Linked DNA regions of Homo sapiens: region 1 is linked to region 2. The links come from fine-mapping of genetic effects on gene expression. Tissue or cell type: spleen. Region 2 holds a variant in brackets; the other region holds the start of a gene. All regions are shown on one strand. Distances are from middle to middle.

Region 1 (8,178 bases), 98 kb after region 2:
GAGGGAAAAGTTTACATTCCCTGGGACACAAAACCGGTAGGGCAGTCAACAGTCCTGAATGTGGAAATTTAGCTTCGATACTTTATCAAAAGTCCTCTTCCTCTATCGCTTTGAAATCAATTCAAAGGCTGCCACTTCCAGGAAACTGATGCAGAGAGGAAAGGCTCACAGCCAAGGTGCTCATGGCACAGAACTGATTTATGTCCCCTCCTATGCAAATATAAAGTCTAATTAGTTTGTCTTGAAAGGGAAACAGACCAATAAGCAGGATGATCTACTGTCATCTGAGTTTTGAAGCTGTCTCTGACTTTCCCATCACAAGTGTGGATATAATCCTGCAATTACGATAAAGCTAATTGGTAGTTCCCTCCTGCATGTGTGTTTTCGTGTTGTCAGTGGGGCAGTAATGAAAATGAATGCCACATTTGTGAACAGACCGTCTGTGGGCTTATTTACCGCATTTCCAACAACATCGTCTGCTTTATCATACATTTCAAAGCAGGGATAATTTAAGTATCCAGAACTTCATGCATAAAAATACTTGGTAAGAAGGTCTCTCTCTGCACACTATTTGGGTGATGTTACATCCGAATTACAGTTTGCTGCCCAGGAAATGATTCACTTCACTCAAAAATGACCGGGGTTCTGAATCATTCACCTGTTATGCAAAACGCCTTTCAGGTCAACCAATTTGCACCTCGTGGACTTCACCACCATCATTTCACAGAGAGCACAAAGATGAGGCAAGCCTTGCCTCTCCCATCTACATGTTTCCCCAAGGAAAAGCATGGCAGCAATTCACTCCCACCCCTCCACACCCCGCCTTACCTTGAAGTAGCTTTTCCCCTTCTAGAATATTTTGGGAGATTAATGCCGTGTAATCATCTTCAGAGAACCCAGCCTTGCAGGTCTCTCTAGTTGTAAGATCCTCATTATGGGCCTGAGAACACAAAGGGGAGAGTGTAAAACAATAAGTTCACAGAAATTTAATCCAACCAACATTCATCCAGGGCCTGCTGTGTAAAAGGTCTCTGGCTAAGAGAGAAAGGCTGGCAGGCCACCGTCTCCACCCAGACGCGATACCCCGTCTGCTCCTCTGCTCTCTGGGGACTTTAGGGAGCACTCTCCAGGCTACAGACCAGGAGCATCCTTCCCCAGCCCCACACACAGCAGGCAGGGAGTGAAGGACGGACTGTTGGGGAAGCCAGGCCGGCCAGGGCCTTATTGGCAGAGGAGACGCCTGAGAAATGACCAAAAGGCAGAGACAGAAGACTTCAGCCGCTGCTCCCGAAGCCACTAAGGGCAGGGAGGCCAAAGTGTGGGCGGCTCTGCTCAGACCATTCGCGCTTTAGGCCCACCGCTCTGCGCTCTTGGTAAGGCGGAGGAGGCAGCTTCTTGTCTCCTCTCCAGGTCACCGGGAGGGAGGAGAAAGAGGAGAGAAAGGAAGAAGATTCTCTAGGACTAGGTCCGGAGCCGGTCGAAGAAGGCAGCTCTGCGGGAGGCTGCCGGTGGCTGGGGTGAGGAGGCAGTGGGGGCGCTTCCACCTTCTAGTCTTCAGCCCGCATTTTCACCCTCGGAGCCCCCATCTCCAGCCCAGGCAGGGAGACGGCTCCCCTAACTGACCGGAAAGGGGGTCTCCTCCTGTCCTCCGGAGCTCGCTCGCCTTTCCTGCTCAGTGGGGAAGTCTAGAGCCCATGGCACAGGGCCAGGGAAGGATGGGGTGGACGACAGGGCCCTCCGACCAAGCTTCTGGGAGGGGGCGTGACAGGCAGGAGGAGGTGGTGGAGGGAGAGGCAGTGTGTGCAAGCGGGAAGCCAGCCCCGCTGAAGGAGCAGGAGCACAGCGGTGCTTGGCTCCCCGGCGAGCGCAGGAAGCCTCGGGTGCAGCCCGCACCGGGCAGTGGCGCCTCCCGCCCGCCGCCTCCTCCAGCTCCGCGCGCTGCCGTCGCCCGCCCATGCTTCGACTCCGGAGGCCGCCCCCAGCCCGGAGCTCCAGGCTTCCCGACGCCGGCACCGCGGAGGGCGCCCCTCTACCCCCAGCACCGAGGGAGGAGAGCGGGACGCAGGGTCATTCCTTACGAAAAGCTCTAAACCGCGGCTTTCTTCATCGGCCACGAAGCTCCAAATCGCACCCGCAGCCCGGTGGGAGGCTCAACTCGCCCAGGAAAGTTTCCGCCCGCCCGAAGCGTGTGCCCAGCGCGTCCCCCAGCGCCCCGCGGCCTCGGAGCGGGCCTCCCGCCGCTGGCACTTGTTTATTTCCGAGGTTACAACAGCGCTGCCCGGGAGAAGGCAGCGAGGCCGATCGGCCACGAGAGGGGGTTCCTGCAACTCCCGCCGCCCCTCCGCCTCCGCCCAGGGGCGCCCCCGGAGCCGCCGCGCTCTCTGCCCCCGCGGGCCGCGCACCTCGCCAGGCGCAGAGCAAAGCTGGCAATCCGGCCCGCGGGGCTCTGCAGAGGCAGCGGGAGACCCGCTCGCCCTCCCGGGGCGCCCTCCCGCGCCGCGCCCGCCCGGCGTCCGGCTTCCCGGCCCAAGCCCGGCCCAGCTCCCAGCCCCCGGGGCCCCGCCGGACACGCAGGCTCCAGCCCCGCCGAGGGCTCGGGGGTGAGAGTGCCCCGCAGTCCTACCCCGCCGCCCACCCGCAGCGCGGGTCCTGCCGGCACCCACAGAACTGAGCGGCGCCGCTAGACGGACCCCCAGGCCTTGGGCAGGAGAGGTCGGGCAGGCGCCCCGCACTCGCGGATCCCTGGCCCGCAGCCGCCGGGCGCCCCACGCCTTCAGCCACGGCCGGGGCTGGGCTCGGCAACTCCCGCGGCGCGCGGCTCCCGGGCGATGGAGGGCGCGCCGGCTCCGCCAGTGGAAGCCTGCCCCATGCAGGCAAGCCGAGCTCCGGGTAGCGGCTACGGGCTTTGGGCGTTCGAGGGAGGCTCGGCGGGTCCGGTGCAGGCGGAGCTCCCCGGGTCCTCCACCGAGCCCCACTCCCACCCTGCTCCGCCGCTCCCCGCTGCCCAGGCGGCTTCCCGCTCCTGCCGACCGCAGGCAGCTTCGCCGAGCGCGGGCGCCGGGCTGGATGCAGCGGGGAGCGCGGCGGGGGAGCCCGGGAGAGCCCCGCCGGGTGTGTGAGCGCCCCGCGGGATCCGGGGACGACCTCCCGCTGCCCGGGGCTTCCGAACGGCGGGGGCGGGAGGCGGCAACTTACCCGGAGCGCGCCGGAGAGCGAGAGCAGCAGAAGGAGCACGCCGGCGCCCGCGGTCATCTTCCCCGCCGCCCGCCCGGTGCCCGGCACCGGGAGCCCGCTCCCTGCCGCCGCCGCCGCCGCCGCCGCCGAGACCACCGCCGCCGCTCCGATCGCCGCCGCCGCCGCCGCTCCCCCGCGCCTGCCCGGAGCCTCCAGCCCCGCTGCGCCCGCCGCGCTCGCCGCCCCGGCTCCGGGAGCCAGGCCAAGTCCGGCCGGCGGCGCGTTCCCTCGGGCCGGTGCGTCCGCCGGCCTCGCAGCCGCCCGCGCCTCTGTTCCGCGCGCTCGGAGCTGCAGGTGAAGCCGCGGCCGCCCCGCCGAGGCCCCGCCCCGCCGCCCGGCCCCTGCGCTCGCTCTGCCGACGCGGGCCTTAAAGGCGCAGAGCCCGCGCCCGCGCCCCCCGCGCCGCACCAGCCCAGCCTCTGCCCTCCTGGACGTCTGGAGCCGCCCGGTTGCGGCCGAAGAGGCCAAGGACGCTCGTTTTCCAGGGGAAAAAGGCGCGGGTGTGGAGACTGAAGACAGCGCTGGGGTTTCCGCCCCCACACCCGGGGCACCCTTTCTGGATGGGGCGGTCCCGCCGCGGTCTTAGTCCGACTTCCCGCCCGGGCCCGCGGTGGGAGTGTGCACTTCCATTCTGTCCTTTTATTTTTCAGGTGTCTCCTTGCTAACTCCCCTGACCCGGGCTTGAACCCAGGTCGGGCAGCTCAGGGGTGAGAGTTTCCACCTGGAGCAGATGAGCAGAGGGCCACGCTGAGATTTCAGCCTGTGGGGCTTTGCAGACCCTCCCGCTCCTAGGAAAACTCAAAGCCCTGGCCTGGGCTAGGGATGTACCCTAGGATTGGGGACGGTAGTAATTCCTGTGTGTGCATCAAAACACCCTGTTAGGCCTCAGAAGCCAAGAAAGAAATTAGAAGCTCCAAGAAAGAAAGAAGTGCCCAGACAGGAGCTGTCAGGAGTGTCTGCGCCGACAGGCTGGGCCAGCTCCAGCTCCCTTTGCCCTGCATGGGTGATGGCTGAACTGGGGGGCACTTCTTTAAGGGTTATCAGGTAAAATATATGTACAGGTCGGACAGTGAGTAAATGTTTCTGCACTTTTCCTTTTGGCTTGGAGATTTAAAGAAACGCGGTTTTGTTTGTTCAGATACATCGAATTTTCTTTGTCTGGGGTTTCAGGGACTCTGTGTCCAGAATACATTAGTTCTGGTTTAAGAAATAGGTTGCAAAGGAGAGGGTGGAAGATTGAGTGACACTGTTGAGCTCCAAGATCAGAGTCCACTTGGGCAAGCCAGTAGAGAAAGCTACAGAGCAGCCGCTTCCCTCTCTCCCTCCCAGAACCCCCACCCTTGGGGGCAGGGTGGTCTCCCGGTTAGAGCTCTGCCTTACGCTTAAGGAAACCAGATTTTAGATAACCCCAGAGGACCAGAGTAAGCACTACATCCGAGAGCACAAGGCGAGATTCGGTTTTGCAACTTAACTATGGAACTAGTCAGGAGACACAAAATCTGCCCCAGCCTGGACTCCTATCAGTTATGGCCTTGTCCCACTCCCCACCTAGCCGAAGAAGGAGAGGTTACCAGTTGACATGGCTGGAGGTTTAGACTCACTCGAAGGTCCTGCGTAGCCAGTGAGGTTTCATGAACAGATCCATCCAAAATCCTCATGGACAGAGAATTCCATTCCTCGGCCATGTGCCCGTCCTTTGGGAAGACGCCCCCTCTGCTTTCCTCCTTATTCAAGGTGCTTCACCACTGCTCGAGCGACATCAGAAGCTGTCCAAGACTGCTTTAGACACCAAGACAGCTCTCTTGTCTTGTGTCCCTGGTCTATTTTCTTAAAATATCTGTCGCTGGGGATACACCTTTGTCTGCAGGAGGCCTGAGCATTATGCGAGTTATTTCTTTGGAGAGGCATCACAGACCCCCGCATTTGCTCCAACGTGCTCTGCGAAACTGTTGAAGCGCTGAGGAGCGCGCCAATTTGAAAAAGAAAAGGTATGAGTGTGTGGCAGGGAGACTGGGGTCCAGGAGCAGGTGGGTCCTGAACTCCAAACACTGTGTTAAGCACATCTCCCTCTACTACTGAATGAATCTTGAGTCTACTGCAGCGTGATTTCCAGAAAGGGTAGAGTTTGACAATAGCCTGTCCTTACAAGGTGCTAGCTATGTGCCAGGGACATGTGTAGGAGCTTTATGTAAAGTTGCTCTTGGAGTCCTTCTAACTCCACTATACAGTCAGGCAGAGGAGGGTGCAGAGGGCAGGCACGGGGAAAGCTGCAGTGCCAGCATTCTCACCCAGAGCTGGGACCCTGGCACACGCAGCATGGCCCCAACTTTGTTCAAAGAAACCTTCTTACACAGCTGTAATGTCTTACGGGAACTCGCATTTTCCGAAATACATAGTTTCAGAAACACTGCAGTAACTGACAGGAGTCCAGTAGAGAGCATTGGTTTATCAGACTTACTCTGAATGCAGCAGCAAAGATTGCTGAGACAGAAAAGAAAAATATGACCTAAAATACAAAGCAGTGCCTCCAAAGAATGGTCTTCAGCCTGTCACTCTGAGTGTGGTCCCCAGACCAGCAGCATCAAGATCCCCCAGGAGCTTGTTAAAAATGCAGAAACTCAGGCCTTACCCCAGACCTGCTACATTGATTCTGAATGCTGATGGGATTCCCCGCCACGCCCACCTCTGGTCTGCAATCATCTGCAACAAAATCACAGAGAAACTCATGAAAAATGCCAGTTCCTAGGCTCCACCTGAAATCCATGGACTTGGAGCTTTTGCAAGTGGGGCCTGGAAGCTGACCTTGTAACAATCTCTCCAGTCCATGCTCATGCCACTAGCATTTGAGAATCACGGCCTGTCCCACAGACAGTATGTCCCACGTAACAGAGCAGCAGCTGGAAGCATCAGAAAAATGCTCTCTCCTATGCCCCACCCTGGATTTCCAGAACCTGGACCTCCAGGGGTGGAGCCTGGGCCTCTGCCTGGGGTAGCTGGAGAAACCCTGGCACAGTGTTTGGCACATTGGCCAGTGGGACTGTGGCCTGCCTTTGGTCCACCCAGTGCAGGGAAGACCACAGCTGGCCTGGAGGAGGAGCTAGTCTCTCTGCACTTTGGATAAAGAGCCCTAGAAAAATGTGTGCGTTTGTTTCTAAGAGAGATTAAGAGAATGCATTTGGGAGGTAGTGTATAAGTGACTGTTTGCTCTCAACACCTGTAAACTGTTGACAGTAATTGGACTACAGATGTTTGCTAAGCTTGATAGACTTCTCTGTCTCCCTCTCGATGAGGTGAGTCTGGGAAGGGGTTCCTCTTTAGAAGCAAAAACCAAGTGCTTGTATCAGGGCCACATTTCCCTATATTCGTTGGATGTTAATTTGTTTCCTTCCCTATTGATAGTTATTATTGTAGACACTTCAATGTTCGACAAAAAGGCTGTTTTGTACAGAAAGCAGTGAGATGTTGGCAAAAGGTGTGTTCGTAGAATAAAACATTGTCTTTGTGGGCGATTGAAGATATTCAAGGCACTGTAGAAATGAATGGAATCAGCCTGCTACCCAGCTCAAGAAAACTCCCTGCATGCAATAGAGAAGAGCGATCTTAAAGCAAAAAGCAAAGGAGAGATTGAGAGGGGCGAGCAGGCAGCAGAGAGACCAGTACAGATCGCTCCCTGCCTTCCATTCCAATAACGCTCACCCGCTGAGGTGAAGCTACACTGGGAATAAAGAAAGGAATAGAGTTATTGTTGTAGGTTTTTCAAAATCTATCTTTCTCCATGAACAGGGATCCCTATGTACTGTGTGGCAGGTACTGTGTCGAAGGTTTTCAGTCATGATCCCATGCGATCCTCACATAGGACGGAGGTGGTGATGCCCATGGTCCACAGACAGGACAGACTTGGGTATGTGAGCAGCCTGGCCTGGGTCACCCGCCGGCACGGGGTGGGCTGAGATTCTACTCCAGGCAGCGTGACTTAGGACCTGGGGGCATGGCTGTGAGGTGCATCCCTTGGAAGCAGAAATCCCAGGGGGAAAGATGCAAATGTCCCCTTCCAACCTAGGGCTGTCTTCTTTCCTTTTCCAGTCTCATGCTCAGCCTGGCCCACTCGCCACCAGCAGAATCCTGACCCTCTAGTCCATCCAGAAGCACACGCCCCCATCCAGGCTCTGTGCCTGTGCCTCTGCTGCTCCCTCCGGAGCTCCTTTCTCTCGGAGCACTGTGTTGGCTTTAGCTGCTGCAGGGCTTGGTGGACACCTCTCTCCTCACAGTGTGGTGGAGCTCCTTTCTGTGTGTCCGCCCTCTGGCCACTCCGAGAGCCTTGAGGGTGGGGGAACAGGGTGTTCCCCTCTCCACATGTGGCCCAGGCTCTAACCCTCTAGGAGCCCCCAGGGGGTGGACCCATAAAGCAATGATACCAACGATGACCCCCACTGGCTGCACTGTACCCTGGGGTACTTCCTGCACTCCCCCATTATACAGATGAAGACACTGAGGCATGAAAAGAGGGGAGGAGCTTGACCTGGAACCCAGGGCTGGCTGAGTTCAGACTTACAGCCTTAGTCATGACTGTGCTCCAAAGAAGCACACCATGCACTCTGGGTTCTGAGGAAGAACCAGGTGAGGCTGCTTCTCTCACTCCCCTGGGACTTGGGGGTCTTTGAATCTTTGGAAATTTCCATGGAGCAGGAGATGCAATTCACAAGGGGAAAAAAATTCAAAACAAAACAGTCAAACCATGCAACAATCAAAGGTATCGGATCTGCTGGAGAAGGGAGATGCGTCCTGGCAACAGAAGATGGGGAGGGGCCGTTTTGAGATCCCAGGGCTTTTGTTTGTTCCATGTTGTTGCTTTGCTTGTTTGTTTCTTGTCTGCTGTTAAAAAGGGGGGAACACCAGAGGTGGGAGCAGAGACACACGTGTCACAGGGAGGCCAACGACAGGGCC
Region 2 (8,178 bases):
GGCCTCCACCTACACGATGCCAGCACCACCCAACATCCCTAGACGTTCTCGAATGTCCCTTGAGGGCAAAATCACCCCTCGTTGAAAACCACTGCCATAGAATCTTCAGAATAATCCCCATCCCTGTAAATTATCGATTCCTCACACCTACAAGCAGGAAAACAGAGTCCTGCAACACTGACACAGAAGATAAGTCCTTTCAGCACAAAGCAGGGCTGCTGGGGTGAAAAATCATCATTCTCCATTATGCTCAAAGATAAATTTCATTAAACCAACCAAGCTAAAAAGCAATTTTCATTTGCGGATGTTTCTAACGGGGCACATTCCAGGCTCTGGCATGAAGCGCTGTTCCCACCCAGTGGAAGGTGAACTGGGGTGAATCATCGTACTGCACTCACATCACCTTCCAGAGGAAAAGGGGAAGCAGGGGAGGAGGAGGAGGGGAGGAGGAGGGGGAGGAGGAGGGGGAAGAGGAGGAAGAAGAGGAGGAGGGGGAAGAGGAGGAGGATGAGGAGGAGGAGGAAGAGGAGGAAGTGGAATTAACCTGAATTGAAAGCCAGGATGCACAAGAAGTGACCAGTCTGAGAGATGTCCACTCTCAGTGCTGTGGAATATATTCGGTTTTCTGTGAAGATTATATTCTGCAAGGCTCAGTGTATTAAGGCAGCTTACAAGGTAAAGAGTTAGATAACGGTGGTGAAATAAATTTACAGGCCAAAGTCGCAGGCATTATGCAATGCGCGAAGGCTTGGCACATCGCTGGAGATTGCTAAATTAATTTTAATGGAAGAGGAAATATTAGTCCAGATACAGGCTGCTTCAGGGACACGCGGCTGCCCCATGGTTCCAGAGACCCTGGCACCTCTGCACCCCCAGATCCCCATTCACAACCTTGAGACCCCTCCCACCAACTAAGCTTTGCCTCCAGGGGAGGAAGTAGCACATTCATCATGTATATGCTTTCCACAGGTGGAAACCTGAGACACAGCAGAGCCAACACCAGAAGCGAAGCCTGTGGCTGGAGCAGAAGAAGCAGGACAGAGTCGGGCAGGCGAGAGCCCCTGTGGCGGGTCAGAAACCTGCGGAGCTAAGAGAGGGGAGGGGAGGAGATGGGGCCCGTGGGGTCCCCAGAGCCTGAGCTCAGCCCCAGGGGCCCCTTGGTCCGGCATGCCACACAGGCAGAGAGAATGTTGAGGCTTCCTGGGTCCTGGAACCTCCTGTGCGCCGCAAGGATGGGACATTGACACACTCCTTGTCCGCAGCGTCTCACAGGTGCACGGGGTGATGGGCTCCTGGCTGCACTGCCGGATGAAGAACTCCGAAGAGCAGAAAACCAGCAAGCGGCAGACGGCCAGGAAGAAAATGCAGTGCAGGTGACCGGGGGGAGTGAATGGCAGGCTAGGAAAACAACGCCTGCAAACCAACAAGAAACAGCCAGGCCCCCTAGAGAACATCTCCATCCAAGGAGAAATATACAAACAGGCTCAAACACGAAACGGCCTACCCCAGCAGAACCAGGCGATAGAAATCAAAACAAAATACAAAGCTTTGTTTTCTTTCCACCAGGTCAGAAACGAAAAGGGCTGGACGTCCCGCGCACCGGAGAGGCTGCCCCACAGGCGGCTCACACCCCGCTGGCAGGCACGGGGGCCAGTGCAGTCCTTTCTAAAGCAATGTAAAGACGTTTGCCACATTTTCAGACGTGCTCACTGCATTGTGGAAAAACACTGGCTCTCATGAGGGACAATGCTGGCAACAAACGAACGTCACCAAAAATGACTAAATAAATTTTAATCGGGGATTTTTTTTAAACGAGGTAAAACTCTTTGTTCCGACACGGCATGTATTTCAATATATATTAAATTTTAAAAGTAAGTTGCAGGACAGAAAGACAAACTTTGCACATTGTCACTTATTTACAGAAGCTAAAAATGAAATGAACTCATGGAGATAGGAGAAGAAAGGTGGCCAGAGGCTGGGAAGGGTAGTGAGGGCAGAGTGCAGACGGTGAGTGAGCACAGAAAAAGTTAGAAAGAATGAAGAAGAGCTAGGATTTGTTAGCACAACAGGGTGACTGTACTCAATAATAATCTAATTGCACACTTAAAAATAACTAAAGGAGGCCGGGTGCGGTGGCTCACACCCGTAATCCCAGCACTTTGGGAGGCCGAGGTGGGTGGATCACCTGAGGCCAGGAGTTCGAGACCAGCCTGGCCAACATGGTGAAACCCCGTCTCTACTAAAAATACAAAAATTAGCCTGGTATGGTGGCGCCTGCCCATAGTCCCAGCTACTCGCGAGGCTTAGGCTGCAGAATCGCTTGAACCTGGGAGGCGGAGGTTGCAGTGAGCCGAGATTGCGCCACTGCACTCCAGCATGGGCGACAGAGTGAGACTGTCTCAAAAAAAAAAAAGATAAATAAAAATAAAAATAACTAAAGGAGTGTAACTGGATTAGTTTGTTACACAAAGGATAAATGCTTGAGGGGACAGCATCCCATTGCCCTGATATGATTACGGTGCATTCTACGCCTGTATCAAAACATCTCACGTCCCCCCCATACACATACATACCTGCTGTGTAGCCTCAAAAAATAAAAATTACAACAAAAGTAAGTTGCAGAACTATATGTCTAGTAAATGTCATTTATGCCAAAGTATACAGCTGTCCCTTGGTATCAGTGGGAGACTGGTTCCAAGACCTACCACCGTGCATGCCAAAATCTGTAGACGCCCAAGTCCCTGATACGAAATAGCACAGTGTGTGCGTAGAATCCAGGCACCCCCTCGCATAGACTTGAAATCACCTCTGGATCACTTATATTATGGAATACAATGTAAATGCTATGTACACAGTTGTTAGATTGTATTGTGTAGGGAAGAATGACAAGAAAAAATCTGTCCATGTTCAGTACAGGCACAATTCTTCCTCCGAATATTTCTGATCTGTGGTTGGTTGATCCAGGGAGGCAGAGCCCTGCAAATGGCCATCACCTGACCTTCCCAGCATCTGAAAGCACGGAGGACAGCAGGCCTTGAGCACGGGCTGCCCGGGGATGGAGGGAGGGCGGCTGTGACACCCAAGGCATTGCCCCCACCACAGCTGCCACCCCAGCACCACCGTGAACACAGGTTTGTTGGCGTTCAGGATGCAGCACATGCCTGGTTCCTGCTTCAGACCGGCTCAGCCTAGAGCGATGGTCTCTGTATTGAGTCACTCTTCAATGTGTACAATATTTCCTTTCAAAATTATTCCTAGAAAATAAAAAAAAGGCAGCATGCGACATGCTCATGGAATCATAATTCCAAGTGAAGCTTGAGTTTCCAACACAGCATCATCTTTCCCATAAGAGTGGCAATTTTCCGCTCACAACACAACTTTTCTCCCCAGGCCACTTGAGGGCGCAGTTAGCACTGGGGGGGGGCCTCTGCCTGATGCTGGGTGGGAGAGGCAAGGTCAGAGGTGTCCTGCTGGCATCATGGCACTGGGAGAGGGCAGGGATCTGCCTGACTCTGGGTGGGAAAGGCAAGGTCAGAGGTGTCCCGCTGGCCTCTGCAGCACTGTGGGGGGCCTGCCTGACCCTGGGTGGGAGAGGCAAGGTCAGAGGTGTTCCGCTGGCCTCTGCAGCACTGGGGGAGGGGGAGGTGTCTGCCTGACGCTGGGTGGGAGAGGCAAGGTCAGAGGTGTTCCGCTGGCCTCTGCAGCACTGGGGGAGGGGGAGGTGTCTGCCTGACGCTGGGTGGGAGAGGCAAGGTCAGAGGTGTTCCGCTGGCCTCTGCAGCACTGGGGGAGGGGGAGGTGTCTGCCTGACGCTGGGTGGGAGAGGCAAGGTCAGAGGTGTCCCGCTGGCCTCTGCAGCACTGGGGGAGGGGGAGGTGTCTGCCTGACGCTGGGTGGGAGAAGCAAGGTCAGAGGTGTTCCGCTGGCCTCTGCAGCACTGGGGGAGGGGGAGGTGTCTGCCTGACGCTGGGTGGGAGAGGCAAGGTCAGAGGTGTTCCGCTGGCCTCTGCAGCACTGGGGGAGGGGGAGGTGTCTGCCTGACGCTGGGTGGGAGAGGCAAGGTCAGAGGTATTCCGCTGGCCTTGTGGCACTGGAGGGCGGCTGCCTCCTCGCCCACATGTGTCCAGTTCCTTCCTGAC[A/G]TGACTGTCCCAGTGGGCAGGGGCAGGAGGAGAGGGATTCCTGGGTTCCTGGCGCTGGGCTGAGTCTGGCACTGAGGCCACCACTCGCTCGAATGGTAGCATGAGCTGCCCTGCCCCGGGGGTGAGCTGTGCTCTGAGCTGGGTCCCACATGAACTTGGTCCTTTCCCCTCCTGGAAAACTTAGGAGCACATGCTCCTTTCCACGTACATGGTTGGCCTCAGAGGGGTCTTATTTGCAGAAGGATCAGCAAGACTGCCCCTGAGAGCCGTCTCCACGAGGGACTGTGTGATTCTTTATAACACAAGGGCGTGCCTCACGGGGCATGGAAGGGAGCTGTGGGGAGCCCCAGCTTTCACTCCACAGACCTCCCGATGAGGCCTGCTGTGCCATACCCCAGGTCCATACACATCCAGCAGCATCCAGCAACGGGGACATCAGCCAGCACCCCAGCTCCCGGCCTCGTCTGGATCCTGGCTCTGCGCTCACCCTTCCCGGGCACCTGCAGGATTTTCCCTCACTGACTTTGTAAATTAACTGGCTCACGCCTCAAGTGGGCATTTTCTCCCTATGATTCAATTCACATCAAACATTAGCTGGTGCTCAAGATGAAAACTTCAGCCCAGATGTGCTGAATCCTACCCAGCACAGGAGCTGCCACACCCGGCTGCGGAGCTGGGGCTGAATCCCAGGTTGCAGCCACCTTTCTCCCCAGAACCACCAACTCCACGGCTACGGAGCAGCCTTGGGTTGGGGCAGGTAGAGCATATGTGGCCCTGCAGGGTCCCCGCTGTCTGTTCCTGATGACCCAGCCTGTCCATCGGGGCTGCAGGCCGGTTCCTGAGAAGTGGCCCATGTTCCATATAGACAGGAACTCTGTCCCATGACATACGTGTGATCTTCCAAGCACAAAACCCTGGATGCTGGGGCCGCACAGCATAAAATAAAACAGGAAGCTAACTACATAAAGGAACAATTGCGGCACAATGTGGCCCTCCCACCACCACTGTTATTCCCAGAAGCCCTGGGCAGCCAGGACAGGAGGGGCTGCGGGTCTCTATGCCTCTTCTTTCAAATGTAGTCCCAAAACAAACGAAAAACAAACAAGAACTTTTAGAGACCCTGTGTCAATTACATCCAAAAATCCAAATGGCTTTCTCTTCCATACTTGAGAGAGAAACAGTTACTGGCGGCCATCAGAGGGTTTATTTCAAAGCCAGGAAGAAAGAGGCCCTTTGGAAGTGACAAGAGCTTTTATACTTCCTGAAGTCCTGTTCTCACTTCTGCCCACTCGTCCACCTGCCCAGGGCCATAAACTCCCAGCCATTTGGAGAGATTCAGCCAGATTATTGAAAGAAGATATCATGATACATAAACTGATCCTGGGTTATTTAAACACCGGAAGTGAAAGAAAATTAAAGAGAACAGAAGTGAAGCTCTCACTGGAAGCTCAGCTTTAAGATGAGAAAAAGTGGGCAGCATTCAGTCTCTCTAGGTCTTGGTGGAGGGAACCGCTGGCAACAGTTCCCTTGTCTCCTATTGATATGGTCTGGCTATGTCCCCAGCCAAATCTCATCTTGAATTGTAGCTCCCATAATTCCCATGTGTCATGGGAGGGACCCCGTGGGAGGTAATTGAATCATGGGGGTGGGTCTTTCCCGTGCTGTTCTCGTGATAGCGAATAAGTCTCATGGGATCTGATGATTTGATAAAGGGGAGTCCCCTGCACATGCTCTTTTGCCTGCCACCATGTAAGATGTGCCTTAGCTCCTCCTTTGCCTTCCACCATGAATGTAAGACCTTCCAAGCCATGTGGAACTGCGAGTCCATTAAACCTCTTTCCTTTATAAATGACCCAGTCTCAGGTATGTCTTTATTAGCAGTGTAAGAACAGACTAATATACCTACTCTCTCCAAATGTAGGAATGCTTACCATTATGGGGCGAAACAGACCAGTGGGAAGTCACCATGTTACAGGCACACCTGTTCCCAGAAGAAAGTCTTCCCCGATAATACACACGTGGGTTTCCACTCTTCCCTTTAACCATGGAAAGGGCTGTTCCTCATTTTAAGGACTTGTTATTCCCTCTGACTATCAGACTTTGCAGACACAGGACTCATCTGATATTCCAGGCACGGTTCAAACGCCATGCTTCCCACCTGGTTTGTGGGTCCCAATTCAAATCAGCTGAAGTTGAAGAGACCAATGTCCCGTGCCGAACCAGGAAAGCACACCCCGCCAAATGTTATGAGACAAAGAAGGCGAGTTGGCGCTTCGCAAACACCAGCCCCCGCCAGCTTATTTTGCCTGATAAGCATATACATCTCCCGACTAAGCTGAACAATGGACTTCCAGGTCCACGATGAATCAGAACAGCCTTATGTGTCTCTCAGCGCTCACACTAGAGGGAAACTGGAAAGGTCTAATTCATTTTAAATAGCACTGACAGCTGCCATTAATGATTCCTTCTGCGATCTGTCATACATATTTATATTTAGTCACCGCAGGAAGCATCGTGGGAGTCAATATCCTCTTACATTTTTTCTCTTTCTTTTTGGTAAAGTATGAAGAGGGGGAAATGTGTAGATAGTTTTGTTTTTCCTTTAAGCAAAATCCAAGTAAGAACATTTGGAATCATCTAAGACAGAAGCCTCATCTAATCTAGGTGTATATTTCTAAAACCACGTTGGCCATCACGCAGACTCAGCCGCCACTAGTAAAATGTGTGGAGCAAGCATTTAGCCAGGCAGCGGCACGGGCTGTCACCTGTCTTCTGAATGCGGGCAGGGCCTCACGGCCATGTGGGGCACGAGGCTATGACTTTGGTCTCCCACAGAGGTCAGGTTCTGAGAACCGCAGTCCATGAGTCAGGGGTAATGTAGGTTCCTGCTGGGAGTTCGGGCCCTACACTGGGTTCTACAGATGAAGTTAGTAAAACGTGGTACTGACCTTGAAGAACCCTTGGGCTAATGGAGGAGACAGCCATGAAACCATGTTATTAGACAATGGGAGAGATGGTTTATGAGACATGTGTGCCAATCTGCAGGGGAGCAAGCAGAACTGCCTGGGAATGTGGGATGGGGATGAGGGACAGATGGGGGGCACCCGTACGTGGAGTCAATATGATCTAATTCCCACCCTGGCCCACTCACCGTCGCCTCTCACCTGCATAGCGCAGAGCCTGGCTTCCTGCTGCACCCTGGCCCCCGGAATCCATTCTCATGCCACAGCAGAGGGGTTAATTTTTTTTTTTTTTTTGACAGAGTCTCGCTCTGTCACCCAGGCTGGAGTGCAGTGGTGTGATCTCAGCTCACTGAAACCTCCGCTTCCTGGGTTCAAGTGATTCTCCTGCCTCAGCCTACTGAGTAGCTGGGACTACAGGCACGTGCCACCACGCCCAGCTAATTTTTGTATTTTTAGTAGAGATGGGGTTTCGCCATGTTGGCCAGGCTAGTGTTGAACTCCTGGCCTCAGGTGATCCGCCTGCCTCAGCCTCCCAAAGTGCTGGGATTACAGGCGTGAGCCACCATGCCCGGTCAGCAGAGGGGTTAATTTAAACCTCAAATCCAACAGCACGTTCCTGCTCAGACCCTCCAAAGCCTCCTCATGGCCGTGGGAATGCAGCCCAAGCTCCTTGCTGGGGCTCCCATGGCTGGCCTGGCTGATCCCTGCCTCCCTCCGACCACACCAACCATGCACTGATTCTACTCATGGCCCCTGGGGCCGTCTTGTGGTTCCTCTAGGACCTCCTGACTATCCTGGTCTCAGTCCCCTGCCTCTGCTGTTCCCTCTTCCAGACACACTCAGCCCCAGGGCCTGACAGAATGGAATGACCACCTCACCCTGAGAGAGACTGTCCTGACTGCACATCACCCCTCAGCCTCCAGCCCATGATGCTGGTTTCCCTGCAGCATTTATCCCGCGTGGGTTAATTTGTCCCGCGTGAGCATTTATTCTGCTCACTGTGTACTTCCCTGTGTGTTCTGCCTCTCCCAGGGGAGTGCCACCCGCATGAGGAAGGGAGAACGTGCTGCCAGAAT

Evidence for each region. PIP is the estimated chance that this variant, and not a neighbour inherited with it, causes the effect.
Region 1: CDH4 starts here. The variant in region 2 is fine-mapped to the expression of CDH4 in spleen (GTEx, PIP above 0.99).

Annotation. Positions count from the first base shown.
Region 1 is chr20:61,247,588-61,255,765 of GRCh38, reverse strand. CDH4 (cadherin 4) reads right to left here and starts at 3,505. Exons shown (of 16, transcript NM_001794.5): 1 at 3,196-3,505; 2 at 829-940. The coding sequence starts at 3,252. RefSeq lists an enhancer at 709-1,401.
Region 2 is chr20:61,345,960-61,354,137 of GRCh38, reverse strand. The region is part of intron 2 of CDH4 (cadherin 4); the gene reads right to left. Among named protein-coding and RNA genes, the nearest start is that of CDH4, 98 kb to the right of the region's middle. RefSeq lists an enhancer at 1-415. The variant A/G (reference allele first, on the strand shown) is at 4,140.